Homo sapiens: one gene and its partners. The protein of the gene in region 3 interacts with the protein of the main gene of each other region in a biochemical or structural test. Each region holds a gene or a part of one and is shown on either strand. Other genes may lie near its edges.

Region 1 (7,749 bases), about 21 Mb from region 3:
TAATTCATAATAAAAATATTGAAATGTAAAATGAAATATATTAAGTCTAAGCAAGAGGTTTTGCTTTTTGACTGAAATAGGAATACTTTATCTAGCAGAATGAGAAAGGTACTTCGAATTAGGCAAGGGATTCCCCCAATGGCTGAATTCCCAAGCCCTCTTTATTGCCAGTTTTGACTCTAAAGTACTCTTTTTATTATGAAGTATCCACTGAAAAAACTTAAAACTGAGACAGTTCCTCAGTTCTGTTATTGGCAGACTTGAAACCAACAAAGGTGATTCCTTTGATGCTTTTTCTGCACAAATACTTTAAGATGTCCTAGTTTCCTATCTAATTTATCATGTAATTTTCCTTGCCTTCTTGGCATGTGTTTGTTTTACGTATATAAAAATTTTATTTCTCTTTTATCCCTACCCATAAGGCATTCAAGCTTTATCTTCCTATTTCCTAATTTTTCACTAGGAGGCATTAACACCAATGTGCCTCAAAAATGGGCAAAGGAATTCAACACACATTTCTCCAAAGACACAGAAATGGACACCAAGAACATTAAAGATGCTCAACATCTTCATCATTGGGTAAACGCATATCAAATTCCCAAGATGCCACTTCACACCCAGTAGGATGGTATCATAAACCGAAAAAGAAAAATAAAACACCCCAGAAAATAACAAATGTTGATAATGATGTGGAGAAACTTTCAGAAGCTTCAAACATTTCTTACAGGAATATGATGCAACCACTCTGGAAACAGTCTAACAGTTTCTCAGAAAGTTACCATATGAACCAGTAATTCCACTCCTAGGTATATACCCCAGAGAACTGAAAACACATCCACACAAAAAACTTGGATACAGTACTCGCAGCAGCATTATTTATGCTAGTCACGAAGTGGAAATAAGGCCAGGCGCCATGGCTCACACCTGTAATCCCAGCACTTTCAGAGGCCGAGGCGGGCGGGCGGATCACTTGAGATCAGGAGTTCGAGACCAGCCTGGCCAACGTGGTGAAACCCCGTCGCTACTAAAAATACAAAAATTAGCCGGGCATGGTGGCGCGCGCCTGTAATCCCAGCTTCTCAGGAGGCTAAGGCAGGAGAATCCTTTGAACCCGGGAGACGGAGATTGCAGTGAGCCGAGATTGCGCCATTGCACTCCAGCCTGGGCGACAGAGCGAGACTCCGTCTCAAACAAAGAAGTGGAAATAAATGTCCATAAACGGATGAAAGGATAAACACAATGTGCCACATGCATATAATAGAATATTATTTAGCCATAAAGAGCATGTGTACTGATACACGCTACACCATGGATGAACTTGAAAATGTTAGTGCTAAGTTGAAGGAGCCAAAAAACAAAAGGCCACATACAGCGTGACTCCATTTATATGAAATGCCTACAATAGGCAAATTCACAGAAAGTACAAGATGAGTAGTTGTCAGGGGCTGAGGGAGGAATGGGAAGCAATTGTTTAAAACACACTACATGGTTTCTTTCTGGAGTGATGAAAATGTCCTGAAACTAGACAGTGGTGATGGCTGCACTACACTGTGAATATATTTAAACAAAAAACAAATACCTGAATTGTACACTTTAAAATGGTTAAAAACTTGAATTTTATCTCAAACAAAACAAAAATCAAGTGCCCTCAAATGTATATTTCTAAGTGCCTAAACTGAGAACGATCTCTACTTTCAAGAGGACTAACACTGAGCTATCCACCTGCAAGACTGTGAAGTTATCTCCTAGGGGCACATAGTACCCAAGACCTACCTTAAAAGACTTGTCACAAGATACCCAGATTAATACTGGAACACACAAACCTCATAGTTTTTCTTCATTTAAAGAAAAGATTTTGAGTTTAAAAAACAAAAACAAAACAAAACAAAAGCTTGGGACTCCCCAGTACTTGTTTTCATAAAGCAAATCTAGTTAATACACACCCAACACTTAACTGTGAATAACTGTCCCGTCTTCACCTCCCACTTACGCCAGGAAATGAGCAATACAAGTACTATCATTCCCATTTTCTAACTGAGCAAACTAAGTCTCCACAAAATTTAATTCTCCAACGTTCAGAGTTTACAGAGCTTTAACACAGGCCATTCGCTTTCTTACTATTAATTACAACTAACTTTCCAAGTTATTTATTTTAAAAATCACATACAGCAGATTGCTGTTTGCCAATCACTGACTTAAACACCTAGAAATCATATTTTTTAACAACCCTATGAAATGGATGCTACTGCGACACAGAGAAGCTAAACAACTTGCCCAGAGTAACACAGCTCCTCGTGTGTAGAGAAAACCTGACTAGGAGAATTCAAGTGCTAGCACTGAGAACTCACCTTCCAACCGCCCTCTACCAAGAACGACACTCATGTTTGCACCCAGCTTTGCTTGAATGAAGCTTCCTGTCCACTGGCTGGGAAACCAGGGCAGAAAGGGCCTGAGGAACACGCGCAAAGGGCCGCTCTCCCAGACCCACTCCCCGCACCGCCTGCACGGATAATCGCCGCACACCCCCGCTCGAGCCCAGCAGGCGAGTGGGGTGCGAGGTCGAGTGGAAGCGCTGGGGAGCCGACGGCGCAGCAAGGGGCGAGTGAGGTGTCCCCCGGGAAGGCGGCGCACTGACTGGCGCGGGACCGGGTGGCCGCAGGGCGGCTCAGCCCACGGAAACGGCGGTAGGGCGGGAGGCTGGCGCTGCAGCTCCAGCCGGGGGGCATAAGGAATATGGGGCCGGACCACTTACCTCTTCTGAAGCCATGGGGGCTGGGTCAGGCCGAAGTCCCGAGCTGCAGCCGCGCAGAAGGAGGAACAGGAAACCCCGCGCCGAGCCCTCAAACCGAGCGCAGACGCCTACCCGCACGAGTCGCGGCGCTGCAGCCTGCGCCCACACCGACCCTGCGCAAGATCGCGGCCCGCCTCCCGCACGCGACGGATCTCGAACCTTCGCGAGGCAGCCGCCGCCACCGCCCACCGCGAGCACGCACAGCCCGCCAAGCCTGGCTCCACCCACCCTTCCTCGCCTCGCCGAGCCTAGCCCCACCCCTCCCCGCCCCGCCGAGTCTGGCTCCGCCCGCCTGCCGAATCTCCTAGCAACGCTCAAGTCTCGCGAGCGAACCGGCAATCCGAGAAGAGTAATGTCTTGCTCTCCGCCCTGACAACTTTTATGTATTATAATTTGACCGCGCTGGGCCACGCTGCGCAGTCGCAGCTCGGAACCGCTGCGTTAACCCAGCCCCGGAAATAACGTACCGATCTTCGGAGTCCAAGTCGGAAGTTGACTAGAGAGTCACCTGCTTTCGTCCGCTCTAGGACACCAGACACACCAGGCCGCCATGTTGTGTAAGGTTAGTCTCTCAGCCTCCGCGAGAAGAAGGCGAAAAATGGGGAGGAGCAGCCTGGTTACTTTCAAACGAGAAAGAACGGATATGTTAAGCGTGGAGGGCTCCTAATGGTAGCGGTTTGATTTTCAGTGAGTTTGGCGCGGTGGAGACGTCACCGCGGTCTAACAGTTCCGACGTGGTGGCGTCATCACTGGCCGCCGTAGGAGGTGGAGCTACGTTGGCCTCGTGACCGGGCCCTGTAGCGGAAGCCCAGGTCAAGGCCCTAACAAAAGGGCCCGCCTATGGCCACAGTTTCAGGCCCTCCTTTCAGTCATGGACTGTTGAAGCACGATTTCCTGGTGCTTTCGCCCCTTTCACCGACCATTTCAAGAGTCCGTAGTTCTCGCCTGGGTTTGGATTCGGTATAAGTGAGCCTGTTTACCATCAAAGAAAATGGTGAAATGTCTTCTGGAGACGATGTTCTCTTCTGGTTCTAACCCTGTCACTCAGTGAGACCCCCAGAGAAGCCTAGTTTTCAGATTATTCTAGTCCTTGGCAGGCTCAAGATGTCAACAACACGGTTGGAAACAACCCCTGAGAGGTCACATAGCGCGCACTCAGCTTTACAGATCGTCCAAGGCAGCGACCCCTGAGAGGTCACATAGCGCGCACTCAGCTTTATAGATCGTCCAAGGCAGCAATTAGAATCAGCAACTCGGAGAGGAAAAAAAGCTGTTAGCGGAATGGAGGCTGACCATTATCTGTAGTAAAGAATCGGAAGTACAGTACAAAAATAAATTACCGAAACGCAACATGCGTGAATTTCACACAAAAAAATGAAGTTGAGGGAAAGAAGCCAGACATGGAAGAGTTCATATTGCGTGGTTCCATTTAAAAACTAGCCCATGGTGTTAATGAGCATAGTGGGGAGGACAATGACATGAAAGAGCCACCAGGGGGCTTTTGAGGTTCAGGTAATGTTTCTTGATTTGGACACTGATTATAGATAGGTGGGTTCACTTTAGAAATCTCATTGAGTTGTAAACGTATATTTATGTACGTAGTTTTTTCTGTAGATTATGCTTAAGGCCCGGCGAAGGGGAATTTGCCCAGGTAATGGAAATATTACACCGATACATAGAATTGTCAAAGTTCATGGGATGAACTCCTAAGAGCTGTGTATTTTATCGTATAAATTTTTTTAAGTGTCCAACCAATAGCCTGGAATTATTAAGTACATAATTAAATAAAAACAAATATCCCATGGACCTAATGCAGTGAACAGTTACCTCGTTCTCTTAATTGCTCAGGCTAAGGACTCATACCTGAGTCTTCTATCTCAGGCCTTACATCTTATATAACAAGCCTTACTGGCTTAATCTTCAAAATATGTAGCGAATTTAACGAGTTCTCACAACCTCTGCTTCTACCACCTGACGGGGTTTGGGACATGCTACCCAAAAATATGGCACCTAGACATATTGAATACTTTGAACTGAAGGAATTTGAGAAAGAACATATGCAGGAATGTCTCTAACTTTCTTGCACCTTTCTGCTCTGAAGCAGGACGTAATACCCTCATGTGAGAATTGCCCTGTCTATACCTGGAATAAAAGTAACATCTTTATCTCTGAAAACACAGGGACGTAGAGACGAATATGAACATCAGGCCTTGCTAAGTTTCCCCCAGTTTATTACCCTTAGATCACAGTCTTTTAGCCCCATCACATTTTCCCACAATTCTCCATTCTTCTTCAAACCTACTCTAAACAACACTAAGGTTAACTATTTATTCGGGTCTTCATTTCTTTATGAAGTTTCCATGTTATGTAAAACTAACATTAATATTTATGCTTTTCTCTTGTTAATTTGTCTTTTGTTACAGGATCCCCAGCCAGTGAGCCTAAAATGGGTAGAAGGAAAAGATATTTCTTACCCTACGCACCCAGGTCCAAGTCATCATTATTTTGTCTGAAATTTATCTTCCTAACTGATTTCTCTGCTTCCCCATTGTGCCTTAAGAGTTAGTTTTCCACAGAGCAGCTCGAGATATCTTTTCAGATCATTATATCCCTTTGCTTAAAAACCTCTAACAGCTTCCTATTAGGCTTAGAATAAAGTACAAACTCCTTAATGTGAACTTGAGTGTTTTACGTATCTTATCTCACCTTTATGAGCTTCATGTCAGAACCCATCTCTCACCACTCTTCCTTCCCCGCTCCCTGATTTAAACAGTCTGGCACTTTACTTATTCATTGAACCCACTGGGTTTGCTCTTGCCTCCAAGTCTGTACCCAGCTTTCTCTCTACCTGTAATCCTCTTCCTCTAGGTCATCACACAGATCGTTTCTTCACTCTATTTAGGTCTTTCAGAAGTAACACTAAGGGAGGCTTTTCCAGACAATATTATGCAAATATAAATGGACATGTGACAAATACTTTATTCGACTTATTAGTTACTGAGAGTGTATTTGAGTAGCCAGGTATTTATAGGCAATTTAACAATGTAATGTTAGTATAAGGTGGCAAGGTTAGATATAAACCTGTTAATGTCTCACAGGGTAATAAACTATAACTTTTGGTGTTATCTGTTCCACTGGAAAGGAAGTAGGGATTTGCATTCTTACTGGACAAAAATCTACAAGTTAATGTATAGATTCAGTATAGGACTTTTAAATCAATAGTGAACGATGAAATGAACAAAGTACAATCCCCTAGTCCTTGGTTTGACACTGAAAGGACATGCCACTCACCTTTTTGCCTTGTTTCCAAAGTTTGGAATAATTTTCCTTTCAAAATGAAATTATTTCTCATTCAGTTGTCCTATTGCAGGCAGCCTTTACTGCTTCCCCCAGTTAATGTACCTGTCAAGCTTACTCATGATTTCCTAACTGCCAAATTCAATGGATATTTTTAATTTTTTTTTTGCTATGACTCATACTGTTCCCTTCGGGCTTGTCAGCAGATAAATGACCTTCTGGGGACTGTGCAAAATATGGAATGCTTAATGAATTTGTGTGTTATTCTTGTGCAGGGGACACAACAGTCTTCTCTGTAGATTACAGTTTTAGTGTATGTGCTGTTGAAGTGAGCACTTCTGAGTAATTTTGATTGTTTTACTTTTTATGTAAAATTTCACATTGTTTAAAACACCAGATGGGGGCCAGGCATGGTGGCTCATGCCTGCAATCCCAGCACTTTGGGAGGCTGAGGCGAGTGGATTGCTTGGGCTCAGGAGTTTGAGACCAGCCTTGCCATGTGGCAAAACCTTGTCTCTATAAAAAATAGAAATATCAGCCAGGCATGGTGGTGTATGCCTGTAGTCCCAGCTACTTGGGAGGCTGAGGTGGGAGGCACTTGAGCCTGGGAGGTGGAGGTTGAAGTGAGCTGAGATCACGCCACTGCACTCCAGCCTGGGTGACAGAGCAAGACCATCTCAGAAAACAAACAAACAAAAAATACCACATGGCCAAATGAAAGATGTCTGTGGTCTGAATTTGGGCCAAAAGCTGTAATCTTACAGTCTTTGATTATTTTTTAATACATGCTGAATTCCAAGAGGAGCTGACAAATCTCTTGAGATTTCACTTGGGTTCCATGGATTCCCAGCACAAAATGCAAATGCAAATGAGATATGATTGGGATTCTCTGCACACTATCTCCACTTTCATAAGTGCCTCTGAAGTTTAGTTTGAATTTTATAGTATCTCCTACCTTGCTGTACCTTAAAGGACTAACAGCAGCTACCTGACCCAGGATTAGCCAGTCATATTTTTTCCAGAATTTGTAATTGGAACAATTGAGATGGTAGTCTTCTGCTGGTAGTTTGAAGAGAGGATATGTAAACTTGGTAGCTGTGTACTTAGAAGCAGAGAAAGCCTGTTTTCAGAGAGAAGAATGAAGCAGGTAAGTCATCTGGAAGGACAAGCAGAAGCACAATTTTGGGAACAGTTGCTTTCAGAGTCCTGATGGCATTCCAGCCCCTTGTCCTAGTGCCAGTTCAGGCCCAAGTGTTTGGCCTTTGGGACCTATGATACAGATATCCTATTTCCTTTTAATTAATTGCCTCTTAAAATTACTATTATTAAGCTAGCTTGCAAGGGTTTCTGTTACGTGGAATCAAGGAACCTCAGTAGAGAGGAAAATGAAGCACTTTGTGGTGGTGCTGCACAGGGTATCATTTTGCAGGGTATATACTGTGTGTTTTCTACGTTGACTGGAGTCTGGGGTCAGGTGTAAGAAGTGTTACATAAACATTGGGTTCAAATGAGTCAGAATAAAGTCAACTAAAAAAATAAAAAAGACATACATGGACTTCAGAACAAATGTTTATTACTGCTTAATGGGGCCAAAGGGGCAACACAAAGCATTGAAAACATCACTGGCTCACAAAAACAGTCACCTTGTTACCTTCTCAGTT
Region 2 (7,199 bases), on a different chromosome or scaffold from region 3:
CCTAAAATTGTATCATTATCCTTTTAGGTTGTCTTTCCAAGGTCATTTGACAGTACAATGGCTAAGAGTGGGGCTCTGAGGTCATATAGGCCTGAGTTCAAATCTCAGCTCTGCCACTTATCAAATATGCAGCCTTAGGCAAATTAGTTAACCTCACTGAGAGTAATAAATTGAATAATTGTCCCTAAGGTATGTATTTATTCAGTGAGACAGCATATATTAAGCACTTAGAACTAGATGCCATTGATGGTAGAAACGCATGCAGCTAAACAGCTGAGCTCAGGGCTTTCAGCCTTCTAGGATCTTGTGTGGAGATGCTAATACCCAAAAAACAGAGGGAGGTCACCTCTACCCAACTTGCCATCCCAGTCTGCTGTCAGGGACTAGGGTATATGCTGAAGAAAAGAATGTGTGGATGGGCATTCAGGATGAGTAGCAAGCTTCCACCTTGACCTGGGTGCATTGCCCTTTAAATACCTCCTTAATGCAGGCCAGGCATGGTGGCTCACACCTGTCATCCCAGCACTTTGGGAGGTCAAGGCGGGCAAATCACTTGAGTTCAGGAGTTGGAGAGCAACCTGGCCAACATGGTGAAACCCCATCTCTATTAAAAATACAAAAATTAGCCAGGCATGGTGGCACGCACCTGTAATGCCAGCTACTCGGGAGGCTGAGGCAGGATAATCACTTGAACCCGGGAGGCAGAGGCTGCAGTGAGCTCAGATGGCACCACTGCACTCCAGCCTGGGCAACAGAGCAAGACTCTGTCTCCAAAACAAAACAAAACCTCCTTAACCAACAGGAAAAAAAAATCCCTGTTAACAACATCCATTCAGTTAGTACATTGAATCTCTAGGATAATTTAGTATTATGTGAGCTACATCCCTGATTCTCTAGATTGTAGCTTCTAATTACACTCAGAAAGGATTCTTTCATTATTCCATAGTAGAGAGAAGTAAATGGCCTCGTCAGGAACAATGATCTATCTCACTTTAATTCTATTGTTTCAGTGGATCTCACTTTAATTATATTACTTCTGATTAAAATTCTTAGATGTCTTTTATCAACCTTGAACTACCAATTCCAACTTTATCATCCTTTTGTGTTCAAACAGGGTTGGCATCACCATTCACATAGAAATCACCAACAGGAACATATCACATATGAAAACAAACTTACTGGACACTTGTTGTTCTTTAGTACTTCAACTGATTTTTTCACCCGACTGAAAATCAGTGGGTATCTTGTTTGCATGGTGGTATTGGTCATCTGAGACAGTCTCTCACTGAAGCATGGTCTGGTGCAGTTGTCCTGGTAAATAGTAAGGATTTATTCAAAGAAATATTCTGAGGACAGCTTTGGAAATATATCACAAAGAGCAATATAATAGAGATGATTTTTATTTAATCACCATTACTCAAACTTGCATTATTTTTAGACAGGTCCCTTGCCAATGTAGGAAGTGATCTCCCGTATTTAAAGGGGATGCCATTTTTCCACAGTGACATCCCCTGGAGGAGACTTCCTGTATGTTACATCCAGGAAACATGAGGGCTCTGGGCCCTGAAATAGTCGGCTCTGAATGTTCTTTTCAACGGGTGCTTCCCGGCTTCAAGGCTTGTAAGTCTGAAAGTGCAGAGTGAGGAAAAGCCTTTTCACACCAGCTAATGGGATGTGACAATTGAATGCAGCTGGTATTTCAGCAGCAGCTAAAAACATGGACGGTACTCCAAGGGACAGGGGCTGTGCTGTCTGCCTGGTTCCTGCCCAGAAGGCACTCTATCCTCTTCTCATCTAATGGATGGACCGCGATGGGTGCGATGTCTTACCCTAGCCAGGGCAAGAAGCTCAGATTCTTCAGATTCTCCCAGGCCTTGCATGAGAAAGAATAAAGCACTGCACCTTGGAGAAGTGCCTCCTCCTCACCCTAACCAGGAGTTTGAATTAGGAATCAGAACTTTCCTGCCACCCATCCTTCCTGCCGTAGTGGGCAGTGGCCCTCTGGAAGCCCTCCTTCCACTCACAACCTCAGATCCTCTACCTGCCCAGAGGGCAGCATTCAAACCAACAGTCACTCTAATCAGCTAGACAGACAACAGGGTGGTGGGGAGGAAGGGAGGAGGCAGGGAGGGGGAGGTATAGCGCATAGATCATTCATGACAGATGAAAGATAAGGAGTTGTCATTTTATTTACATTGTTTCACAACTCTAGAGTTATCAGTAAATGAGTTAGAAAGCAATATGATATGAGCTACAGCAATTATTATATCCTTAGTTCCAGTTTTATTTAATTGTGCACATGGCCACCTATCTAAAAAGATATTCAGGATTCTTTTTTTAATGTTGAAAAGTGTTCAAACTTCTCAAGAGGCATAAAGTTAATTAAATACAAAGAAATGTTCATAATATAGGATTTCAAGATCGTAGTTTTAAAAGGGAATAATTTGTAACAATGTGGTTTTAACAGGGAATACTAATCTGTAACAATTAAATTAAGCAACAATGTATAACATTAAATATTAAATAAAGCAACTTATTTTTACTTAAAAACAAACCAAAAAAATCCAAGGTCAACATTATGTTATTTCACTATACTTACAGAGGGAATGCCCAAACAGAGACAACTGGTCACCTGCAAGGGAAATTTCAGAGTGAAGATTCCAGATGTGAAAATTAAAATTAATTTGGAAAGTTCTTAAAGAGCATTCACTCACATTAGCACTGCAGTGGCACTTGGAAGCTGGATCTTCCTAAAGTAGATAGAGAGATAAGAACCTTTAGTCAGCCCCGAGTTTTTTCATCCTCATACATATTTCACTTTGTCAGTAGCTGTCTTTCCCATGGGCTCCCCCTGCAGCCTACCTGCATCTTGTTGATGAGGAAGTTGATGTCCAGGATCCCCGCCAAGGTTGGACACCCCTGGCCTGCCACGGAGCACAGGAGCAGGGCAGAGGTAAGGACCATGGCCAGAAGCATCTTGACAGCGGACTGGAGCTCGCTTGCAGACACCTTCAAATCGAGTGGTATTTAAAGCTCCCTCTCAAACACGGAAAAACCCTGACATCAAACTGATACCAAGAGCCCACTTTTTCTCTGTAAGTTGGGGCCACTTTATACTAACAAACAAAAAAATCAAACTGAGTCACTTGACAGAGATGATGCTGTGCCAGGAAATATCATTCCTCAGAAAAGATGATTTTCAAAAAGTTGAGTACTGAAATGCTGAAGGAAAAGTTAAAGATCTAAAAACCAAGAAAAAAAATTCAAAGACAGGGATTCTGGTTGTGAGAGTTAGAATACTTTCCATGAACGCCCAGGTCTGTATTTTCCCTTTTTACATTATGGGAAATGCTGATATAATATAGCCAGTCATGGGTGTTCTAACGAAGGGGGGCCTGGGGAGACAGAGCGGGTTGGGGGAGGGTGCATGATATTGCAGAACTTCACTTATCTCTGTTGGGGTTTTCCTTTAGTAATTGCAACCTCAGTCTTACTATGCTTTATTCCCAAATCTCAATGTTTTTCATACCCAGGATGAAGTTTGCCACCTAATGCAAATGCATCTTAGAAGTATCCCTTTGTGCAAGTGTCTGAAAGAAGAAATGTTCAACTATAAGCACAAGAATGCGGCAACCATGCTTGTTAAAATTGGCCTTGAGGACTCCTCAGTATCTTTGGAGATCTTATATAACACTGTATGACATCAAGTAAAAACCCAGCACTTGAAAGAGTATAGTAGCTAACATTTACTGAGAACTTACTACATACTAGTAACATTTCTTTTTTTTTTTTTTTTTTTTTTGAGACAGAGTCTCCCTCTGTCACCAGGCTGGAGTGCGGTGGCACAATCCAGGTTCGCTGCAACCTCTGCCTCCCGGGTTCAAGCGATTCTCCTGCCTCAGCCTCCCGAGTAGCTAGAATTACAGGCACCCTCCACCACGCCCGGCTAATTTTTTGTATTTTTAGTAGAGACGAGGTTTCACTATGTTGGCCAGGCTGGTCTTGAACTCCTGACCTCGTGATCCGCCCGCCTTGGCCTCCCAAAGTTCTGGGATTACAGGCATGAGCCACTGGGCCTGACCATACTAGCAACATTTCTAAGTACTTTACATGCATTAAGCCATGTAATACACTCGGCTGCCAAATGAGGTGGGGAGTAATTTGTCATCACCATTTTTTACCCTTTAAAACACTGTCTACATCTTAGCTTCCTGGCCCTTCAGTATGGCTGTGTTTAATCACTATGAGTCAAAAAAGCAATCTCAGTGTAACTCTATGAAGTACTATAATTATTCTTATTATCTTACAGATGGAGAAACTGAGGCATAGAGAGGCAGGTAATTTGCCCAAAACCACAAAGCCAGGAAGCCGCAGAATTTGTATTCAAGCCCAGAAGTCTGCCTCCTGATTTCAGCTCTTAATCCTCCTGAACTCCTGTTTTTCTGCAGATCTTTTATCTGCCTCTCCCACCAGGATATATACTCCAGGGCTTTATGGGTCCAGTTCACCCCTATATTCTCAGCACTTAAGGAGGTGCCTGGGGAACTGTGGGCACTCACTAAATGCTTGTTGAATTAAAACACTAATTTGAAAAGTAGTTCTTGAAATACGAACTTCCTACTTCTGGGATTTATAAGATTTCAAATCTGATTTCTAGGATACATATTTGGAGGTATGTGCAGGTAAGTAAATATAGCTTCTACACAGTAGATTGAAAAGGTGAGGGGTTCTTTAGCTTAGCACTCTGAACTATAATAGCCAGTGGGGACAAACTCATAAGATTTCCTCGCCTCCACTGTAAGAGTATGGCAATACTGTTTTTTTTCATTTTGTATTGTTTCTTAGGAGTGATGATGGCTCGTCAGTGTTCCACTGCACTATGGGGAAGGGAGTGTCTTGGTGGTAAACAAGGTAAAGAGAAACAGGTGTTTTGCTAAATTCCCTTAAGCCATCCCACATCTCTGACTTCCATCCCTGCTCTTTGCAGACACTGAAGAGAAAACTCAAAGGATTCCCAGCCTGTGGCAAACACTTTTGTTACAAAGCACTGGATGTATGCCTTTTTCTTGATGGTAGAATTCTGATTAGTTTGGGGTACCAATGTATCCAGCCAAACACCCACATTTTCAGCCTCTTTTGCTGCTACATGTAGCCATGCAGCATGTTTCGATCAATGCAAAGTATGTAAAATTATTTTGCTTTCCTGGTAATAGGAGACAAAAGTGGCTGAACCCTGTCTTTCCCCTTAATTCCAATTTGGGTGTGATGGCAGGAGCTTCAGCAGCAATATTATAACTATGAAGAAATGGACAAGAGAATTACAGCAATGGCAACACTAACATTTTTCATAAATAGCAAATATTCAGAAAGGCAATAAAAAATAAAACCATGAGACTAACAAGAGAAGTAATAATAATAGTACAACAGTGATACTAAAATTCTAGCTAGCTATCACTGCCTACTGAGGATCCTGAGTTATAAAACCTGTTCTTGTTTAAAAAGAAAAGAAAAGAAAATTAGCATGCTTTGGAGAGATTTTAAAGATACATTACCATCAGACTAAACCTCCTTCCCTGACATTATTGGAAGACTTGAGAGAGATGTGAAAAGGCAATCATCTTTTCATTCTGTGAATCAATATTATCTGATGCTCTCTGTGTGAACCGTGGAAATCATTTCACCTGCCATCGGGTATGCCTTTCATATTGAGGAAAACACCACCCCACCCCTCCTGTTGTACAGATGGGGGCTTTGCCCAAGAAGAGAAAGCCACAGCTCTAGTTTCTAGCAGGGGATAGTACAGTGCAGTGGTTAAGACCGGTGACTCTAGAATCAGAATGCCTGAGTTCAAGTCCTGCCTCTATCACTTGCTAGCTCCATGGCCTTGGGGGATTGCTTGGCCTCTCCCAGCTTCCATTTCCTGACCGTAAGTGAGGATGGTGATGTGGAAAGTGGGAATGGGGATCTAGGGATGCAGTTGCAGTTGTCAGTTCTCACTCACTCGTAAGTGAGGATGGTGATGTGGAAAGTGGGAATGGGGATCTAGGGATGCAGTTGTCAGTGAAGGCTCCCCTCAGGGTACTCCCATAGAGATTAAAAGAAACAGCTGCTCCATCCCTAACTTGGTTTAAGTGGCATCCGGTTTGAAGTTTGTTAGGGCAAAGCAGCCGAGGTTAGCGGTCAACAAACTGTAATCCACTTTTCAGGTTGAAGGTAAGGTCTACAAGCTAAGAACAGTGTTTACCTTTTTAAGGGTTCAGAGGGTTAAAGTTTATAAAGAAATAATTAACAAATAAAAACAAGCATGTGTGATAGAGACCGTATGTAGCCCGTAAAGCCTAAACATTTATTATCTGGCCCCTTTACAGGAAAAGTTGGCCACCCCCTGGCTGAGTTCCCACACCCCACCCCACATTTTCTGAAGACATCAACTATTATCCTCCAGTCCTGGGAAGGGTAGAGCTAGGGGTTGGTTGCTCAGGTGTCTCTTCTCCCTTTCCCCATCTGGTTATTTAGGTCAGGTATCTGTACAGAGGGAAGGGAGCAGGGGACCTGGGCCACAGACTGCCAGATTATCCGAAGTGTTGGGGGCCTGCCATTTCCTGAGGCTTTTTGTGGAGTGAGCTCGCTGGTCCAATGAACCAAAGATCTTCTCTCAATGAAACCCGGTAGCTGCAGCAAAGATATCTCAGGCAGGCTCTGGTTTACTAGGAAAAGTCCCACATTTTGAAGTTAGGAGAAAAGTGAATGAATTAACAAGTTAAGTCTTGGCTTGACCAGCAGGCCTTGGGTCACCCACCTTCCCTGCTACCCTCAGGAGCTGGCTCAGGGTCAAGTGATCCATGGCCACTGGTGTTCCTTGGGCAGGTTACTTACCCTTTCCATGCACCAATGCACCCCCAGTGCTCACTCACTTAGAGAAAGGAATGTAAGCCTTCACCCAGCCCTTCCTCATGAAAGAGAGGAGTGCTCCATTTGGGATATACTCTCAGGAATGAGGCATGTTTCTGTTTGGAAATGTGGTCTGGTCTGGTCCAGGTGCCTCGCTCTTTGATACCCCCTCATTACTACCCTCCCGTCACATCAGTTTCTTTTCATTTCCATCCTCCAGGCCTTTACCCTTGCTAAGCTTGGCCTGCTGGCTCCTTCCTCAGCTCCTCCCTACGTGACCTGTTCTCATCATTTAGTTTTCAGCTCAA
Region 3 (6,406 bases):
GGACCTGGGCAGCCGCAGTAGACTCAGTCACACAGCGTCCTCACTGGTGTAGGAAACTCCCTGAGCCAAGCCTCAGGCATCTCAGATGTGCCCTATCTAACCCCTGCGCTGTGATGAGAAAGGGGACTTGCCCCACCCCAGGGCCCCTCTTGCCACACCCAGAGCAAAACACATCTGGGAGCCTCTGGGACTATCTCTGCCTCACTTCCAGGCCCCCAAACCCCATCACATCCCGGCCCAGGGACCATTTCCATCTCCAAGCTCATCCCAGGACTCTCTCTACTGGAAACCACTTGAGCCTTTCCTTAGGATGGCGTTGCCAAGAGGGGCATCTCTCCTCATTCACATAAAGGCACCTTATGTGCTAGAGGCAGCCTTGTCAGGGTGGGTCCTCTGGCCTGGCGAGTCAATGAGTCATTTTCAGAGGTTGACCGTGAGCAAATCTTCCAATGGCTGGTGTCCCACTAAGCCAAGGAGGAACAGAAATCATTCGGAAGCCAGGACGCAAGGGTAAATTTGACCAAAAAAAATTTATTGTACAATTACCCACCACTGGATTTGACTCAGAGAGGACCCCCAGAGGGTGTCTCCATCTTCCCTATTTATTTTCAGCCCTTGAGGGCTTCATTGTAGATCAAAGCCAAGGCCCCCAGGAAGGTGACATACTCCTGGAAGTTCACCTCCTGGTCCTTGTTCCGGTCCAAGTCTTCCATCAGCCTTGCAATTTCAGCATCCTGCAGCTTCTAATGTGTTAGAATGTGAAATCCATACTCAGTGGTGATGACAACCCTGGATTCTTCCCCTTCCCCCTCCCAGGCAATCCTCTCTGCAAGTGGCTCTGTGCTCCCTCATCACCAAGGACCCATGTCACTTTGGCATTGCTTCTCCTCAGCTACTTCTCAGTTACTGGTCCTCATTTGGAGAGATGGATATCCGGCTGGAAGCATCCCCTACCCGCTGGGAGAGTGGGTCTACAGCTCAGGGTCTACATGTGGACCAGGGCCTCAGAATGTGGGTAAATGTGAGTCAGATGCACCTGGCACCTCTCTCTCCCCTAATCCTGCTTCCAAAGGACAAGGGTGGGAAAAGGGGTCCTGGGGAGGAGGCCACTCACCGAGCCAATGGTGAGCTCCTTCTGGATCAGCTCCTTCAGCTCCTTCTTGCTCAGGGTGTGCTTGTCACCCTCCCTGCCGGAGTACTTGTGGAAGATGGCCACGAGGAGGCCAATGGCCTGATCCAGGGGGCATGCCATGGCTGAGGGCTGGGCTTGGAGCTGGCAGCAGAGGGCCTAGTCAGTGCCATGGGAGCAAGGACTTCTCACCCACACACCCCAATAATGCTGCCTGCACTAGCCCCGCCTCCTTTGGAACCACCCAGTCTCAGGCCACACACAATGGCATCAGGAGACAGCCCAGGGCTTGAAGGGGAAGGAGAGAGCACACTAGGGCCAAGGCAAGAGAGGTGGCTTAAGGATTCTAAGAAGCATATAGGAACAGTAGCTTTGGGCACAGCTGAGAACTGTCCTTCAGGGGATCCAGAAGTTGAGGAGTATGGCTGGGCAGGGGAGGGGAATGGAGGCTGCAAAGGCAGCTTAAACACAGCTTCACAGGGCCACACATGGTGGCAATGACACACCCAGGGCACTCCCTTCCGCACCCCAAAAGAGCACACCCCATTGCGATCCCTTAGCCCAAGGCCTGCCTGGCACAGCACTGCTGCTCCTGACTATCCCTCCAGCGGGGGAGCGCCACAGATGGCCCCAGTCTGGATCCAGCGGCTGAACTGGGCAGGGGATGGCTGGACCCCCAGCGTGAGGGCAGCTGGCCCTGGAAAGTACCCAGGGCTCCTGGAGAGAACTCACCGGTAGGGAGGCGGCCAAATGCGACGCGAGCGGTCGAGGGGATGGGCTGTGTCGCAGTCCGACTGGCCTTATAGCGGTCGGTGCCCCGGAGGCCAGCTCGGCCAAGCCCACCCCGCCCGCCCAAGTCCCGCCCGCGCCCCACCCTGCGCCGTGGCTTACACAACGCACATTCGCGGTTTACCCCCTCGACTTTCCACGCCTCCTGCCCGGGGCTGTTCCGGGTTAGGACGGGATGGGGGAGCCCAGCAGTGCCCACTGCACGCCTGGTGACGAGTCTCCCCTCATCTGCGCAGCTCAGTTTGCTCAGTTTGCTCTTCGTGACACGTGACTCGGCAAGGGGAGCAGGAGGAGGACTGCGGCGGTCACCCCTGCTTCCTCTGCCAGACCGTGAATGTGACCCTCGAGCCAGCGCAGCGTCAATGTGGGCAAGGAGGGCGCCTCACAGGATGCCGGTGTCCCACAGAGGATACTCAGGGTCACCCCAGAGGAGATAGGGGGAGTAGCCAGTGGTGTAAAGGATATCTACGGCGCCCATCCCCCACCAGCAACAAGTTCCTACCAACACCTCCACTCCTTCCCCTCAGTGCCCCAAATTCCATTCACTACAGCACCTTTGGTGTTAATGTGCATGCACGTGGGAGCCCAGCCCTGTAAGCACCATTCGTTATTTACGGGGGAGTGAAGGCCTTTTCAGACCCTCCCCTGAGAAAAGATTTTGATGGAGGAGGCAGGGAGAGAAGAAAGCACTGTCCCCCATAGATGATGAGAGTGGTGCTATTGAAGGGGAAATGGTGAAGAGGGAGGGGGCTGGTGTGGAGGCCAGACATGCCCTTCCTACAGGTGCTGCCAAGGTGGCCTCCGGTGAGCTGTGGACAAGTCAGGCCTGCCTGCCTATCACCGCCCTCAGGAGCCACTCCCAACCCCTCCCAGTGTCCTCCTCTCAAAGCAACTTTCCCTCTTAACTTCCTCTGCATCCTTGCAGAGTTCCCGCCTGGCCTAACTTCCCCATTTTCCAGGCAGGCAAAACTAAGCCATGACAAAACCAATGACGTCCACACCAAAGAAGGAGAGGAATGCAGTGGGAGCCCAGGACCCTAACCCCCAGAGGCAGAAGCTGTCTCAACCCACTCAAGGAGAGACCCTTCCTGTGCTCCCCTCTCCCCAGGCCAAGGTAGACAAGACAGCTTCAAAACCAGACTCCCAGCACCTGCGATGGAAACTTTATTTCCTCCCATGGAAGGGTCCATCTGGGAGGGAGAGGAGGGCAGGGGGCCAAAGAGGGTCTGTGAGAGGAGCAGCCGAGGTCAGCAGCAAAGGGTGGAGGGTGAGGGTGGAGGGCAGCCCTGGTCACTTGTTGTCCTCTAGAAAGAAGTCGTTGTAGGCCATGCACAGCATGGTCAGGAACACCGAGTACTCCTTGAAGTCGATCTCCTGGTCGCTGTTCTTGTCCAGGCTCTTCATCAAGTCATCGATGCTGCTCTCCTTCATCTTTTGTGGACCCAGGTGGAGAGACAGCTCAGACCCCGCTCCCAGCCCTGCCCTCGCACCACTGCATGGTGTCATCCCCACCCCGAAACTTCAGGGTGAGCCCCAGCTGAGTCAATGACACTGTCAGCATCTCGACCCCCAGAGTCTGCCCACTGCCCACACCTAGGGAAGGGCCTGGCATGAGGTAGGGGGTCAGGGACCTGACTCCTGAATGGAAATAAATGACAGCAGGAATGCTAGCCTAGCCTGCCTTCCCTGCAATACTGTCCCCCAGCCAAAGAAACAATCATCTAGGTTTTATACCAACACCTGATAAAAACAGCTTGCTGGGTCAGGTGTGGTGGCTCACACCTGTAATCCTAGCACTTTGGGAGGCCGAGGCGGGTGGATCACCTGACATCAGGAGTTCGAGACCAGCCTGACCAACATGGTGAAACCCTGTCTCTACTGAAAATACAAAATTAGCCAGGCATGGTGGTACATCCCTGTAATCCCAGCTATTTGGAAGGCTGAGGCAGGAGAATCGCTTGAACTTGAGAAGCGGAGGTTGCAGTAAGTAAGATCATGCCATTGCACTCCAGCCTGGGCAACAAGAATGAAACTCCTTCTCAAAAAAAAAAAAAGAACACCTTGCTGATTATGTGGCATTGAGCATTATCCAAGTCTCTGAGTGACTCTCTCCCCATTCTAAGGACTAGGTGAGAATAACCCCGGACAAAATGTCTCTCAATGAGAGCAGTGCACTGGGGCTGTGAAGCCACTGCATCCCTCCCCTGCTAGGAGAGCTGTGCAAGAGGCCTGCCTGGAGCCTGGTTGTGCACTGTTGTTCAGTCCCCTGATGTCCCAGCCTGGCTCCATTAGGACGATGGAGTCAGGGTCCTTTGGGTGGAACAGGAAGAAAATATAGACAAGCAGATCCTGATGTCTCCTCATCATTGCCGTCAGCTACAGGTTTTCACAGGAGACATTGGGACTTACAAAGGCGGAAACTGCTTGTCTGTCACGTGATCCTAGTCCCCAGCCTGGGCTCCTGTTATTGCCAGGCCCTCCTCTGGGCGTCTCTCCTTCTGTAATTAATCCCTGCTGGACCTGTGGCCCCTCCCTCTGCCCTCATTAACCTCCAGGATGCAGGCAGCCTGGCAGAAGGCCAGAGATCAGGCCTGGGGACGCCCATACCTGCTTCTGTCCCCTGCCCATGTGGCACACTGTGGACCTTCTTTCTGGGAGGGCCTACCAGGGCTCAAGGTGTGATAGATGGAGAGGCACCCAGGCTAAATTTTAAAGGAAACAGGGAGGATGATTCACAGGCCTGGCCCAGAACTCCAGCTCAGCCTCCCACTAGCGGATTGTCCTTAGGCAAGTTATTTGATGTATTTGAGCATTGATTTTTTTTAACTATAAAAATAATAAGACTAGGCACAGTGGCTCATGCCTGTAATTTCAGCACTTTGGGAGGCTGAGGCGATAGGATCATTTGAGGCCAGGAGTTCAAGAACAGCCTGGGTAAAATAGTGAGACCCCATCTCTACAAAAAATTTTAAAAATTATCTAAGCGTGGTGGTATTTGCTTGTAGTCCTAGCTTCTCAGGAGGCTGAGGTAAGAGGATCACTTGAGCCTGAAAGTTCAAGGCTACAGTGAGCCATGATCGCACCACTGCACTCTAACCTGGGTGACAGAGTGAGACTCTGTCTCAAAAATATTTATCCTTGGCCAGGCGCAGTGGCTCACGCCTGTAATCCCAACACTTTGGGAGTCCGAGGCAGATGGATCACGAGGTCAGGTGTTCGAGACCAGCCTGACCAACATGGTGAAACCCCCATCTCTACTAAAAATACAAAAATTAGCTGGGCGTGATGGTGCGTGCCTGTAATCCCAGCTACTGAAGAGGCTGAGGCAGGAGAATCGCTTGAACCTGAGAGGCGGAGGTTGCAGTGAGCCAAGATCATGTCACTGCATTCCAGCCTGGGTGACAGAGCGAGACTCTCTCAAAAAAAAAAAAAAAAAAAAAAAAAAATATATATATATATATATATATATATTTATTTATTTATTTATCCTCGGGGATATTGTATTATAATAACCTCATGGGCCTTCCCCTCTGTCAGTCACCTCCCTCCCACCACCTCCATCTGGTGAGAACCAGTTCTGTCTCCTCACTACCCTATGTTTACAAGTTAACCTTTCAGTTTGAGTGCCAGCACCATCAGAGAGCCCTGGCCATGCTGTGCACACAGAGAAGAATCAGGCAGAGTCCCTACACTTGAGTTGTACACAGCTGGACCTGGACACCCTGCATCCCTTCACCACCCATGACCCCTAGCACAGGTTCTGCCACTGCTGGGAGAGCCTGGCCCCACCATCGAAGGCTCCTCAATCTCCTTCTCTAAACCCTCCAGACTCAGCCCTTCCTCCTTCTCAGTGAGACCCTGACCCATTCTCCTTCACAGAGGGCTAGAGTTTTGCTGGCCCGAAATCCCCACCATCTTCCTTTGTCTCTGTCTGTAGCCCTTGGCCACCCTGCCCCTGGCTTAGGCTGGAGGATCCTGAGGGTAGGTATGTGTCCCCCAGAGGGAGTACTCAGACTTTGGGGTGGAGGATGAGGGAACAATCACCTACCTCCCCAAGACACAGCTCTTTCTTGATCAGCTCCTTGAGTTCCTTCCTACTCAGGGTCAGTTTGCTACCCTCTCTCCCCGAATATTTGTGAAACGTGGTCACCATAGTGGTCAGGGCCTTCTCCAGAGGAGTCTCCATCACAGTGTGCAGCTCTGTAGAGGGAGAGGGGAAGATCCCATTCCTCAGGAAGTCACCACCAGCAGCACTAGCCTACCTCTGAGGCCCCTCCCTCAAAGAACAAGAGACTGGAACCCAGGATGAGACTGAAATCCACTAACAAGAGCGCCCATCTATATCAGTACAGGTTACAATGAGACCCACAACAAACTCTGGAGCTGCTGGTACAAGGAGAACAGCAAGACCCCAAAGGAGACCACAGACTCTCCTGCTGGGGAGTTGTTGAAAAGTAGGCCTGAGGCAGAAAGATGAGAAGACGACCT

The links.
Region 1: the proteins of S100A6 (region 3) and CACYBP are reported together in a solved structure, tested with the Homo sapiens proteins (2 studies listed by BioGRID and IntAct, with this or other methods).
Region 2: the proteins of S100A6 (region 3) and IL9 form a complex in vitro, tested with the Homo sapiens proteins (one study listed by BioGRID).

The regions. Positions count from the first base shown.
Region 1 is NC_000001.11:174,995,199-175,002,947, reverse strand, and holds the start of CACYBP (calcyclin-binding protein), read right to left. Parts: upstream 3,002-7,749; 5' UTR 2,768-3,001; coding exon 2,753-2,767; intron 1-2,752. UniProt on the Homo sapiens protein: May be involved in calcium-dependent ubiquitination and subsequent proteasomal degradation of target proteins. Probably serves as a molecular bridge in ubiquitin E3 complexes. Participates in the ubiquitin-mediated degradation of beta-catenin (CTNNB1).
Region 2 is NC_000005.10:135,892,841-135,900,039, forward strand, and holds the start of IL9 (interleukin-9 precursor), read right to left. Parts: upstream 3,002-7,199; 5' UTR 2,977-3,001; coding exon 2,863-2,976; exon of another isoform or gene 2,858-2,862; intron 2,751-2,857; coding exon 2,715-2,750; intron 2,633-2,714; coding exon 2,600-2,632; intron 1,312-2,599; coding exon 1,180-1,311; intron 1-1,179.
Region 3 is NC_000001.11:153,534,088-153,540,493, forward strand, and holds S100A6 (protein S100-A6), read right to left. Parts: upstream 1,905-6,406; 5' UTR 1,862-1,904; exon of another isoform or gene 1,274-1,861; 5' UTR 1,253-1,273; coding exon 1,115-1,252; exon of another isoform or gene 817-1,114; intron 744-816; coding exon 609-743; 3' UTR 512-608; downstream 1-511. Other genes in the region: S100A5 (protein S100-A5), read right to left, coding at 3,209-3,349, 5,967-6,118. UniProt on the Homo sapiens protein: May function as calcium sensor and modulator, contributing to cellular calcium signaling.